Linked DNA regions of Homo sapiens: region 1 is linked to region 2. The links come from fine-mapping of genetic effects on plasma protein levels. Region 2 holds a variant in brackets. A gene starts in the other region. All regions are shown on their forward strands.

Region 1 (5,378 bases), not on the chromosome of region 2:
ACGTTTTTGCCTTTTTCCTGATCTTAGAGTAAACGTACTCTGTCTTTCAATATTAAGCATGATATTAATCATAAATTTTCCATGATGCCTTTTATTAAGTTAGGAGGTTTTCTTCTATTCCAAGTTTGCCGAAAATTTTTTCAGGAATCTATGTTGGATTTTGTAAAATGCTTTTTGTGTATGTGGTTGTGTGTGTGTGTGTGTTTCCATTGGGATCATCATAAGGCTTTTAGTTTTTAGCCCGTTAGTAGGGTGAATTTTCTTAATTGAATGCAAACTAAACTCGCATTCCTGAAATAAATTCCACTTCGACCATGATGTATTATTCTTTTTACATATTGTTTATTTTGTTTTGTTAAATTTTGTGAAGAATTTTTGCATCTATGTTCATTTCATGAGGGTTATTAGTTTGTGGTTTTCTTTTTTGATAATGTCTTTCTTGTGAACTCTAGCTGCCTTGGGGATCCATGGACTCCCAGGTCTATCTCTTCAATTTGGTGATGCTTCTGGCCTCTGCCTTGGTAACTTTTCATGCACTATGGCACAGAAACTTTCTCCAGGCAGTCTCTCCCTGTTTGTTTCCCATCTCTCTCGGATCATGTACTTTTGTTACCTGATGTCCAATATGTATAAAGACATTATTTTATATATTTTGTACTGTTTTATAATTATTTTAGGTGAGAAAGTAAACCTGGATCAGAAGCACAAATTCAACATGCCTGGATTCTTTTAACAGTATGAGATCATATACACTAAGGCCTCTTTAGCAAGAAAATCACTACCCAAATGCATGGTATTTATTATAGTTCTTTTAGTAACAGGCCAAGTGTCTATCAGTTGTCCATTACATATGTACACACACACATACATACATATATCTCCCAGGGATAGGTATATAAATCCGCTAGAAAATGAGTTCCTGAATCAATGCTTTATACAAAGGAGGCACTAATTCCATTAGAAACACACATCCAACATTCTTCCATTTATCATATTCCTGTGTTAGCATCTTGTCTGAAATTAGGTTGGCACACTCATTTCCAGTTTCCCTGTTTTCAAAATTATCTTACTACATAGTAGCTCACATTCCCAAGACCTTGGACCCTGGCATGGCCATTTCTAGGTATATATCTGTTAAACTAAATGTGGCCTGAGGATACCTCTGTTTTGTGAGTTCCTACATAATGAACTGCAACCTAACTTAGTATGTACACTACCTGAAAGCCTAACTTAGGAGTATACTTTTGTAACAGACAGCTGAATTTCAGCTCATCACAGCAGCTGAGCTTCAGTCAATTACAGGCAGCCAGCTGATCAGACTTTGTCCAAGTAAGGCAAGTGCTGATGTATAATGAAATCAAGCTGTTTCGATATCTCATTTCTACTTTCTGTCCATAAATGCTGTCTGCCCACATTGAGGAGCAGAGCTCTGTGAATCTCTTCTGATTCTGAGGGCTGCCTGATTTGACAATCATTCTTTTTTCAATTAAACTGACAAAAACAAGCAATGGGGAAAAGATTCCCTGTACAATAAATGGTGCTGAGATAACTGGCTAGCCATATGCAGAAGACTGAAACTGGATCCCTTCCCTACACCATATAGAAAAATCAACTCAACGTGGATTAAAGACTTACATGTAAAACCTAAAACTGTAAAAACCCTCGAGGATAACCTAGGAAATATCATTCCAGATGTAGGACCGGGCAGAGATTTCATGACGAAGACGACAAATGGAGTTTCAACAAGAACAAAAGTTGACAAATGGGACCTTTAACTAAAGGGCTTCTGCATTATGGCCCAGAAACTTTCTCCAGGCAGTTTCTCCCTGTTTGTTTCCCATCTCTCTAGGATCGTGTACTTTTGTTACCTGATGTAACAGGAAAAGAAACTATCAACATAATAAACACACAACCTACAGAATGGGAGAAAATATTTGCAAACTATGCATCTGACAAAGGTCTAATATCCAGAATCTATAAGGAGCTTAAACAATTTATAAGCAAAAACTGAAGAACCCCGTTAAAAAGTGGGCAAAAGACATAAACAGACACTTTTCAAAAGAAGATATATACATGGCCAATAAGCATATGAAAAAATGCTCACACCACAAATCATTAGAGAAGTGATATTACCTTTTAATAGAAACTGAAGAGGTCAAGCATGCCAATGTCATATGGCAAGTAAATGGCAGGGCCAAAATTTTATCTCAGGTCAGCTTGACATCCTGTCAGATGTGGCCATGTTCCTCAGAGTCATTCTTTCACATGTGTAAATTTTACTTAATATCTTAAAATCCCCCAAAAATATTTTGAACTACACATTTTGTTCTAAACAAAATTTTTAGATGAGGAATAATTTTATATATCTTTACATGAACATTTAGGTAAAACTTGAAGCCCTCAAGCCCCAAATAAATTTTTATTCCCAAGACTTATTTAGATGATGTTAGAGTGTTTTTTGAATTTGGTTTTTCCCATTCTGTATCTATCTTTTATTAATATTAATAAATAAATATTAATAAAGAATATATTTAAAAGGTAATTTTATTTTGAAACAGAAGAGAGGAAAATGCATGCTTTAATAATGTCAGTTTCCAGGTAAAGATATTGTGAGCTTGTTTGTCTAAATACATTTTATTTGGAATTCAGTATGAATTTTCAATAGATGCTTTTCAGATAAGAAAGCAGTAAATCAAATGCAATTGTATAAACAAGAAGATCAGAGGGATTATCCTGAAGGGTATAAAATGAACCAAGAGCTTTTAGTTTGGGTCACCACAGCATCTGCTCACCAATGCAAAGTAAGGTAGGTGTCTATAGTGAGAAGGCTCTGTGAAATGATATGTTCTTAAGCTATTTTTTTTCACTTTCACCATTTTATCATTTTTTAGAAAGTGGCAAATGCTGAAAGATAATTTGCTTCAACAGGCTGTAATATCTTAAATTACTGCTCCAAATTGTTTAGTAGTAGATGGAGGTGAGAGAACTACCTACATAAGGATAAGGAAAAAATTCATTGACTTAAAGAAAGAGAAACAACTGATTAGTTCCCTAATGAAGGATATTTGATATTCATGGCTTTCTTCTGTTTTCATTTTGATTTAAATATTGTTGTCCATTTAATGATGTGTGTATTAAATCCTCTCAATTACTGTACTAATGGCCATCTTTTATGAAAATGTACTTCCGGGAATGTTAGAGCAAATTCATTTTTGAGTACCTGCTGGGGTAATGTACTCTGTATTATAAGTTCTTTTTAGTTATTTAATAGCTAAACCTCCTTTGATAGTGTTCAACACACACACAGCTGCTGTATAGTACATTTTGCTTTCTAGAAAAATATACTGCTTTAGTGAAGTTCCAGGATTATTCATAGGATGGGCAATTAGTTCTTTTCATAGTAAGGGATTTGGAGAGTAAAAATTAATGAAGGAAATTAGCAGAGCAGAGAGGAAAGTGTTTATTAAGAATGAAGCATTGGGAGCAAAAATAAGAGAAAAAAAGAGAGGAAAGAGGCAAAGGAAAGAACATATCTTGGAATAAGAAAATACGTTCAAAGTAGGGACATATATGTCCATGCATCTGAAGAAGGCATCTCATTATTTAGGCCCTGCCTGAAACCATGCCTTCTATGTTTAGGTACCCAACAAATTATTCATGGTGATTTCAGAATAAGCAATTAAGTGGCAAAGATGAGAACCCAGATGACAATGAGGAAGAAATTGTGGCATATCACAGAGGAAGGGATTAACTAACGCGGATTTGTACAGTGTTATACAGCTATGTGATCTTTCTTATATAGAGAGCCAAGTGTTTCACATGTATTGTTTTATTCTTTTTATGATTTTAGGAAGGGACATATGGAAAAATGAAGGCACAAAGATATTAAATTGCTCAGTTGCACACAATTACAATTAAATCCTTAAGTAGAATTTAGATCACTAACTCTTAATCAATCAATCAGATCTGACACTAATTTATCATATAGAATTACAGACTATTTGTGCTGCGAAGATTTTCATGATCATCTTCTGGCTCTAAGCCCTGCTTTTATAGGTGAGAAAGTTGAGGCCCAGAAAGATTCTGTGGGTGAAGTTTTACTATTCGCAATAAAGAAGTAAAGGAAAAGAAAAGTTCTTGCTTTCTTTATGCCCACAAAGTTGTACAGATACTGTGGCTGGTAATTCAGCACTTCCATTTTCTACTTTTGTTAGTTTAGAGTTCTACATTTATAGGAGAAACTTCAAAAAAATATAGAGTATCCATAGTTAGTATGACAATAGGAAAACCAAAACAAATTTTCATCCTACATTTTAAAAAGGGTCAGGTGTACTTGTCACTTTCTATTTTGCAGATGGGGAAATAACACTCAAACAGATTATATATTTTAGTCAAGTTCTCATAGATTTATGGAAGAATTCTGTTTCTTAATTTTTAGACCAATATTTTCATCACCAGGTCACCACATTGATTTTATACAGAATTATAGAGCTAAAAGTTAAAATATGTGAAGTTAGTTGTTTCCTATAGAAAAAACTCAGTAGCTGGCTGTCTAAACAAGCAAGAACTATAATGGCCATGATGGGTAAGCATTTTACATAATTTACCAGTTAGTAATTTTAAGATCCTACAGAGGATCATCAAGTTCTGTATCTCTAAAATACTGGAAGCAACTCTGTACCATAGAGGGAGCTCACATTTGAGAAGCGCTTGAGAAAGCCAGATTCCATGAGTAAGGAATTTGTATGTTTTTGCTCCTTAACTCAAATACCAAACAAACCTTCCGTGGAATGTTTGAATATGCAACATTTCATTTAAAAGAATTTGTGAGAAAAACCCCTGTTATTTTAACCTTTAAAAGTTAAGTCTTCCTAAAATGGGTTAGTTTACTTTCTTGTGTAATAAGAAGTATAGTAAACATAAATCTTTGATAATTGTAGGTCTTAAAGTCTTAATTTGGACTCTTTCAGAGCACTAGAACAATCTGCGTTTTTATTATTTGTGTTCATATTAGCTCCTCCACTGGACAGTCAGCCCTTTAGGTAAAGGACCGTAGCTTTTCCGTTTGTGTTTGTCAGTGCCTGGTTCAGATGCTCAATATATGTTTATCTAATTTATCTACAATTCTCATTCTAGGAATAGAAGGTTGATTGAAATGACCACTGATCTCTGGAATTTGACATTTAAAATAAATCCCTGGTAACCTGTGTAATGTGGTTTTCATGGTTTCTTATAAGTTGATTGAAAAAAAAATCCTGGTTAACCAAGGCCGAACCTATGAGGTTTCAGTTTACAGAGGTTTTAGTGTATATAGCTTAAAGATGCTGTTGGGATATAACTGACAGATTTGGGGAAATCTTGGTACTTCTGATTATTGA
Region 2 (5,378 bases):
CCAGGTCAGCTGAGCACTTACAGTTCATCACCTGTGTACTGAGCACCTAGTTTGAGTCAGACTGTGAAATGGGTACCAGGGTGGATCACCCAGCCCTGCCCCACCACACCCCATGCCCCACCCCCGCTGGCCCTTCCCGGGCTCACACCTCCTACCACAGAGGTGACTTTCCAGTGTAGTTTTTGCACCGAGGCACAATGTGCTGCAGAGGCCCAGATGAAAGAGGAGGGGTTCGTTGACATGGGCCTTCAAAGGGGCCAGGATTGTGTCTGGGGACACTGGGTTGTGGTGTCTAGTCAGGCTGTTGGGCGGCTGCTCAGTTTGGACCCCAAGCCTGTGCTGCTGTGCTGCCTGCCCTGTGGCTGCAGCCTGGCTCCAGGCAAGCAGGGGAGACCGTGCGTGTGTCCACTTGGGAATCAGGCTTTCTGTGCTATTGCTTTTAAGGCGCCGGGAGCTTTGCCCATAGAACCGAATCTGTTCCACTCTTTCACCCATCTCTGATCTTTCCCCCTGGGGACAAGGCCTTCTCAAAACCCCAAAAAAGGGGAGCTATCATCCAAACTAACTTATCTATCCTCTGGCACCCCGCAGATTGTGACTTAATTGGGCTGGGGATTGGCCTTGGGCCTTGGTATTTTTAAAGCTAGTGATTCTGATGTGCCACTAGCATTGAGAACCACTGCTCTGTACAGATCTTCATGCCACAGTGGTCAAGCTGAGAGCAGGGCAAGGTCTTGCTTAAGAGCATACAGTCAGGGTAGCAGAATCAGGATTTGAACTCCTGGCTCTGTAATCCTAGGTCGGTGTTCTTCCTGCTTGTGCACAAGGGACCAGGTGAAGCGTGGCTTCCTGGGCCTGGATGGGCACTGGTGAGCAGGGGTTTGGGGGTTTCTGCTACTGCCACCTTGCTAGCATGGTTTCTGTCCTGTTCTGCTCCCAGCCTGTCCTGATTCAAGATGGCATCTGGGTAGTCACAGCTGGTGGGCTCTCATCTTATGACCACTCAAAGAGCAGGTTTGGGTTAGGGATGCAGTTTGTTGCCACGGAGACGCCCCTCCTGTTGCTGTTGGAGTGACGGGAAAGCTGTTAATCCTGGGAATCCTCCTTTCCCTTCATGTCCAGCTTCCGTGGTGTGGCTCTTTCTGACTTGCAGATGCTCTCCTTTGCACTGTCATGGCACCGCTTGGGGATGATTGAATGGACTCTGTTAGTTTCTTAACAAAATTAATGGTGGGCCAGGAGGCGAATGGGCACTGTCGTGTTGAGCTTATCTTTATGACAGCCCCATCTAGGTGATCTGTCTGTGGTGGTTCTCAACCGAGCACTATTTTGTGCCCCTGGGGGCATTTGGCAAGGCCTGGAGACATGTTTGATGGTTGGATGCTATCAGATAGAAGCCAAGGATGTTGATAAAATCCTGCATTACACAGGACACCCCTTCCCCCCAACGAAAAATTTTCTAGCCCCAACTGCCAATAGTGGCAAGATTGAGACACCCACATTAAGTCCTCCTGATAGCCCTGGACAGTGACACTAGAATTGTCACCCTAGTTTTATGGAGAAGGAGACTGGGTTCACACGAGTCCCATGGCTTGGCCCAAGGAGACTCAGTCTCTAGTTCCAGGTCTAGTCCCATATTCCTGCCACCATCTTGGACTGGGTAATGAGGCCCCCAGCCTTCTTCCCATCTTCTGGGCCCTGGTGTTTTGGGTGCTTGAGTAGGAAGGTGAGGGCTGAAGGATGTTGGTGCCGCCGGCCTTCCCCTCTTGGTTTCAGAAGGAAACCAAGGAGTGAATGCGCTCTGAGCTTTCCTCCATACCCTCATGTCCTCTCTTGGGTGGATTTTTTCACCTTTTATCACTAGTTAAAAGGGTGACAGAGCCACGATGTGGAGAAATCAAGTTCCAAAGCCAGAGCAGGAGCCAAGTGGGATGGAAGGGCCATGCTGTGCCCCTTGCCCAGGGCCTCTGGCTGCTCAGTTGAGAGGGAATCCCAGGTCCCCCTGGTGTCCACCAAAGTGGAACTTGACTCCCTCAGGACAGTCGTGGGCTTCTCAAATTCTACCAAAAAGTCACAGCAGCCCACCCCCGAAGAAAGCACTCCCATGGGAAGGAAACCTGTTTGCCTGCACATATGCAAAGGTGGGGGCTTGGAGAACTGACCGGGACGGGGAAGGGGAAGAGAGCCACTAGGCAGAATAAGCTTTCTGTGGCCACACCCTAATCATGGCATTGTCACTGCTACACCCAACGGTAGCCAGTGTAAATAGTTTCCCTGGTTACGTATTCTTCCGAGCCATTCATTCAGCTGTAGGGCTGTAGGTAAATATCGCTTTATAGAGGCAATGGGCTAATCCTAATTTCAATAAGATCCTTTACTGCTATCTTTAAGAGATTTTAAGCCCCTTACATCATGATGT[G/T]TTTCCCTCCTTAGTAATAAACCCGAAGAGTTGTGGTTGTTATTCTGGACAGGGAGAATAAGGTGTGAAAGGTTGAACATGAACTGCCCTAGCTCTCACCGCTAGTAAGAGCTAAAGCAGGCCCTGAAACCAAGGCCTTCGACTCTGAGTTCAGTGCTCCCTCCCATGTAACGCCGTCTCTTCTTTCCACCCTCCCCTCCGAGGAGTAGTGGAAGGGACCTCTCAGTAGGAGGAGGGTGTGGTGGGGGCCAGGTTGCCCCAGGTGCCTCCTGGCTCCCCAGCTGGGGGCCAGCAATTAGGAAGGAGAACCACCTGCATTGACGGTCATTTACCCAATTGTGCTTTGTGGGATATTCAACCCAAGGAATGTGGCACACCTGGCTGAGCGTAAGAGGAAGCCCAAGTTCTCCAAGGAGGAGCTGGACATTCTTGTCACAGAGGTGACCCACCATGAAGCAGTGCTCTTTGGGAGGGAGACCATGCGGCTGTCCCATGCTGACAGGGACAAGATTTGGGAAGGCATAGCCCGGAAAATCACCTCCGTCAGCCAGGTGCCCCGCTCCGTCAAGGACATTAAGCACAGATGGGATGACATGAAACGGAGGACCAAGGACAAGCTGGCCTTCATGCAGCAGTCCCTGTCGGGCCCTGGGGCCGGGGGCCGGGCCCCCACCATCGTGCTCACGGCCCACGAGAGGGCCATCAAGTCGGCGCTGCTCACGGCCCGTGCAGGGCGCGGCTTCCCCAGGGCGGAACTGGATGGCACCGACAGCCCTTCGACCAGCTGTGAGTATCACCAGTCCCCCCCGCCACCCAGCCGGCTGCCTGCCCCCCAGCTTACAGTCCACAGTCTCCCACCGACTTTCCCTCTGGTTCTCTCCTGTCCCTCTCTGTCCAGCCCACTCTTTCCATCCTCCCCTCCTTCTCCCACTCTTCTCCTCTCCATCCCTTTTTGCATTCATTCTCGAATATTTACTGAGCATCTCCGTGCCAGAGCCGTGCTAGGAGCTGGGAAGACAGCTGTGTGTAAACCCCACGCAGGCCCTGCTCTTGGGGAGACCCTGGACTCCTAGGAATAAACCAACGTTAAATAATTGCACGAGTAAACTGGAAACGAAGGGATGGAGGACACAGGAGTCCAGGAGGTCCCGAGAGCAGGGCTGACTTCATGAGCATGCAACCTGAACAGTCACAGGGGCCGCGGGGTTTCAGGCTCTGCTGTCGCCATCTGGACATTCTTCATAGTTTTTGAGCCAGGGGCCCCACGTTTTCATTTTGCATTTGACCCTGCAGGTTATGTAGCAGCTCTGTCTGAGAGTTAAGGAGTGGGTAAAACTGGCTCCACTGGGGACTGGGGAGGGCTCCCTGAAGAAGTCCAGCGGACTAGGATGTGAAGAGTAAGAGTTAACCAGGCCAGGCAGCAGCGTGGGGCGCGGAGAAGGGGAGGGGAGGCGCGCAGGCAGAGAACAGCATGTACGAGGCCCCGCATCAGGAAGGCGCTTGGCACGTTCCAGGAACAGTGAGAAGCCAGGAAAGCCCAAGTGTAGCAGCGCGGGGGAGGGGGCTGGAGACGAGGCGGCCAAGCTGTGAAGGCCCGGGCCGGGCCATGGAAAGATCAGTTCCTTTCTGTGTCTGGTCCTGACTGCTTTGTTCCTCTATTATTACTCCCCTGCCTGAGCCACGCTGCCTGCCCCCACTTTTCTGTGTGCTGCCTCTCAGCTCCCTCTCCATCCTCCTGGCTGCTCCGCCACCCGCTCCCCACCCCTCTTCTCCCTCTGTACTTGTCCCTGCCTTTCCTCTCTACTTCCTGTGTCTCACATGCACTTTGAAGCCAGGGCCCCAGCGGCCGAGGCGGGTGTCCCTTGGGGCTGGAGTTCTAGTTGGGGCTCAGCAGAAGGGGGAGCACTAAAGGCCTCCGCAGGGACTGCAACCCTTCCTTTCCACTTCTGCACATCTCCCCCGTGCCCCGCCAGCTGCAGTCCCCACTAGAGGCCGTCTGCCTGACCGGCTCGTGAGTGGTGGGAGCCAGGCAGGAGGGGCCCCAGGGAAGCAGCCGTGGCTCAGCCCATGGGAAGGTGCTTTGCAAAGACTCACTTGCACCTTCCCTTCCCGGGCCCCCTGCCATTGTGATCCACTTGCTTCCTGTTTGGCTGGGGCTCCTGACAGGTGGCAGTTCACAGAGTCAGATGTTTAGGACTGGAAAAGAACATGGAGACCATTTAGTTCAACTTCCTTGCAATGCAGAAAGTAAGCTCTGAAAACCAAGGTGGCCCTGAGCTCAATTCAGAAGCAGGACTTGAACCCGGGTCTGCTGGCTTCCTGTGAATCAGTGTTTTCCTAAGTCTTAAGAGGATTCCACCCCGTGATAAGAAAAAATGGGGGGGTCAGCATCCAGTAAAGCCTGTTCCCTGCATCCTGCTCCGCTCACCCCTCCATCTCCCTGAGACTGAATGTAATGAGGCCACCAAAGGTAACCTGGGCTGGCAGGGAGCCCGAGTGTGCCATCAGGCAGAGCCCGCTCACCCCCATGGCAGGCTCACAGCCCTCCTTTTCCTGGCAGTGGCCAGCTGCGGCAGCACTCGGCCAGGGGCTTGGCAGAACGGGGACCTGGGAGGGAAGGAGCAGCATCACCTCGCCGGGTCTCACTCCTTCCAACACTGGCCATGCTAGACAGGTCTCTGGGATCTCAGGGGATGGCTGCTGTCCCACCAAACACTGCCAAGAGACACAGGACTCTTACCAAGCTGGCCCAAGTGAGCCCCCAGGACCCCTGGGAGGCATGAGGTAACTGTAAGATAAACCTGTCTGTCCTCCCCATCACCTTCCTGGGGGGTGGTTCTGAGTTGAGTCCGCAGATCCAGGCAGGGAGGGCTTGCCTGTCAGTAGGGTCAGCCCATACATCATTTAATCCTGCCACAGGGATCAGCCCATACCCTTGGTCACCAGAAAGCAGGACCCA

Alleles and levels. Alleles are on the strand shown, and positions count from the first base shown. The strength of an association depends on the size of the effect and on how common the allele is.
In carriers of allele T in region 2, the plasma level of the protein whose gene starts at base 2,772 in region 1 tends to be higher than with G alone (weak association).

The links. PIP is the chance, under the fine-mapping model, that this variant and not a neighbour inherited with it causes the effect. The UK Biobank Pharma Proteomics Project read protein levels with antibody pairs (Olink). The fine-mapping took linkage between variants from a reference panel, not from the people measured, so its PIPs are less certain.
Region 1: it holds the start of TSHB, and the variant in region 2 is fine-mapped to the plasma level of the TSHB protein (UK Biobank, PIP above 0.99).

Annotation. Positions count from the first base shown.
Region 1 is chr1:115,027,055-115,032,432 of GRCh38, forward strand. TSHB (thyroid stimulating hormone subunit beta) reads left to right here and starts at 2,772. Exons shown (of 3, transcript NM_000549.5): 1 at 2,772-2,806.
Region 2 is chr11:45,206,091-45,211,468 of GRCh38, forward strand. The region is part of intron 5 of PRDM11 (PR/SET domain 11); the gene reads left to right. Among named protein-coding and RNA genes, the nearest start is that of PRDM11, 62 kb to the left of the region's middle. RefSeq lists enhancers at 3,310-4,057, 4,058-4,805, 4,806-5,378. The variant G/T (reference allele first, on the strand shown) is at 2,420.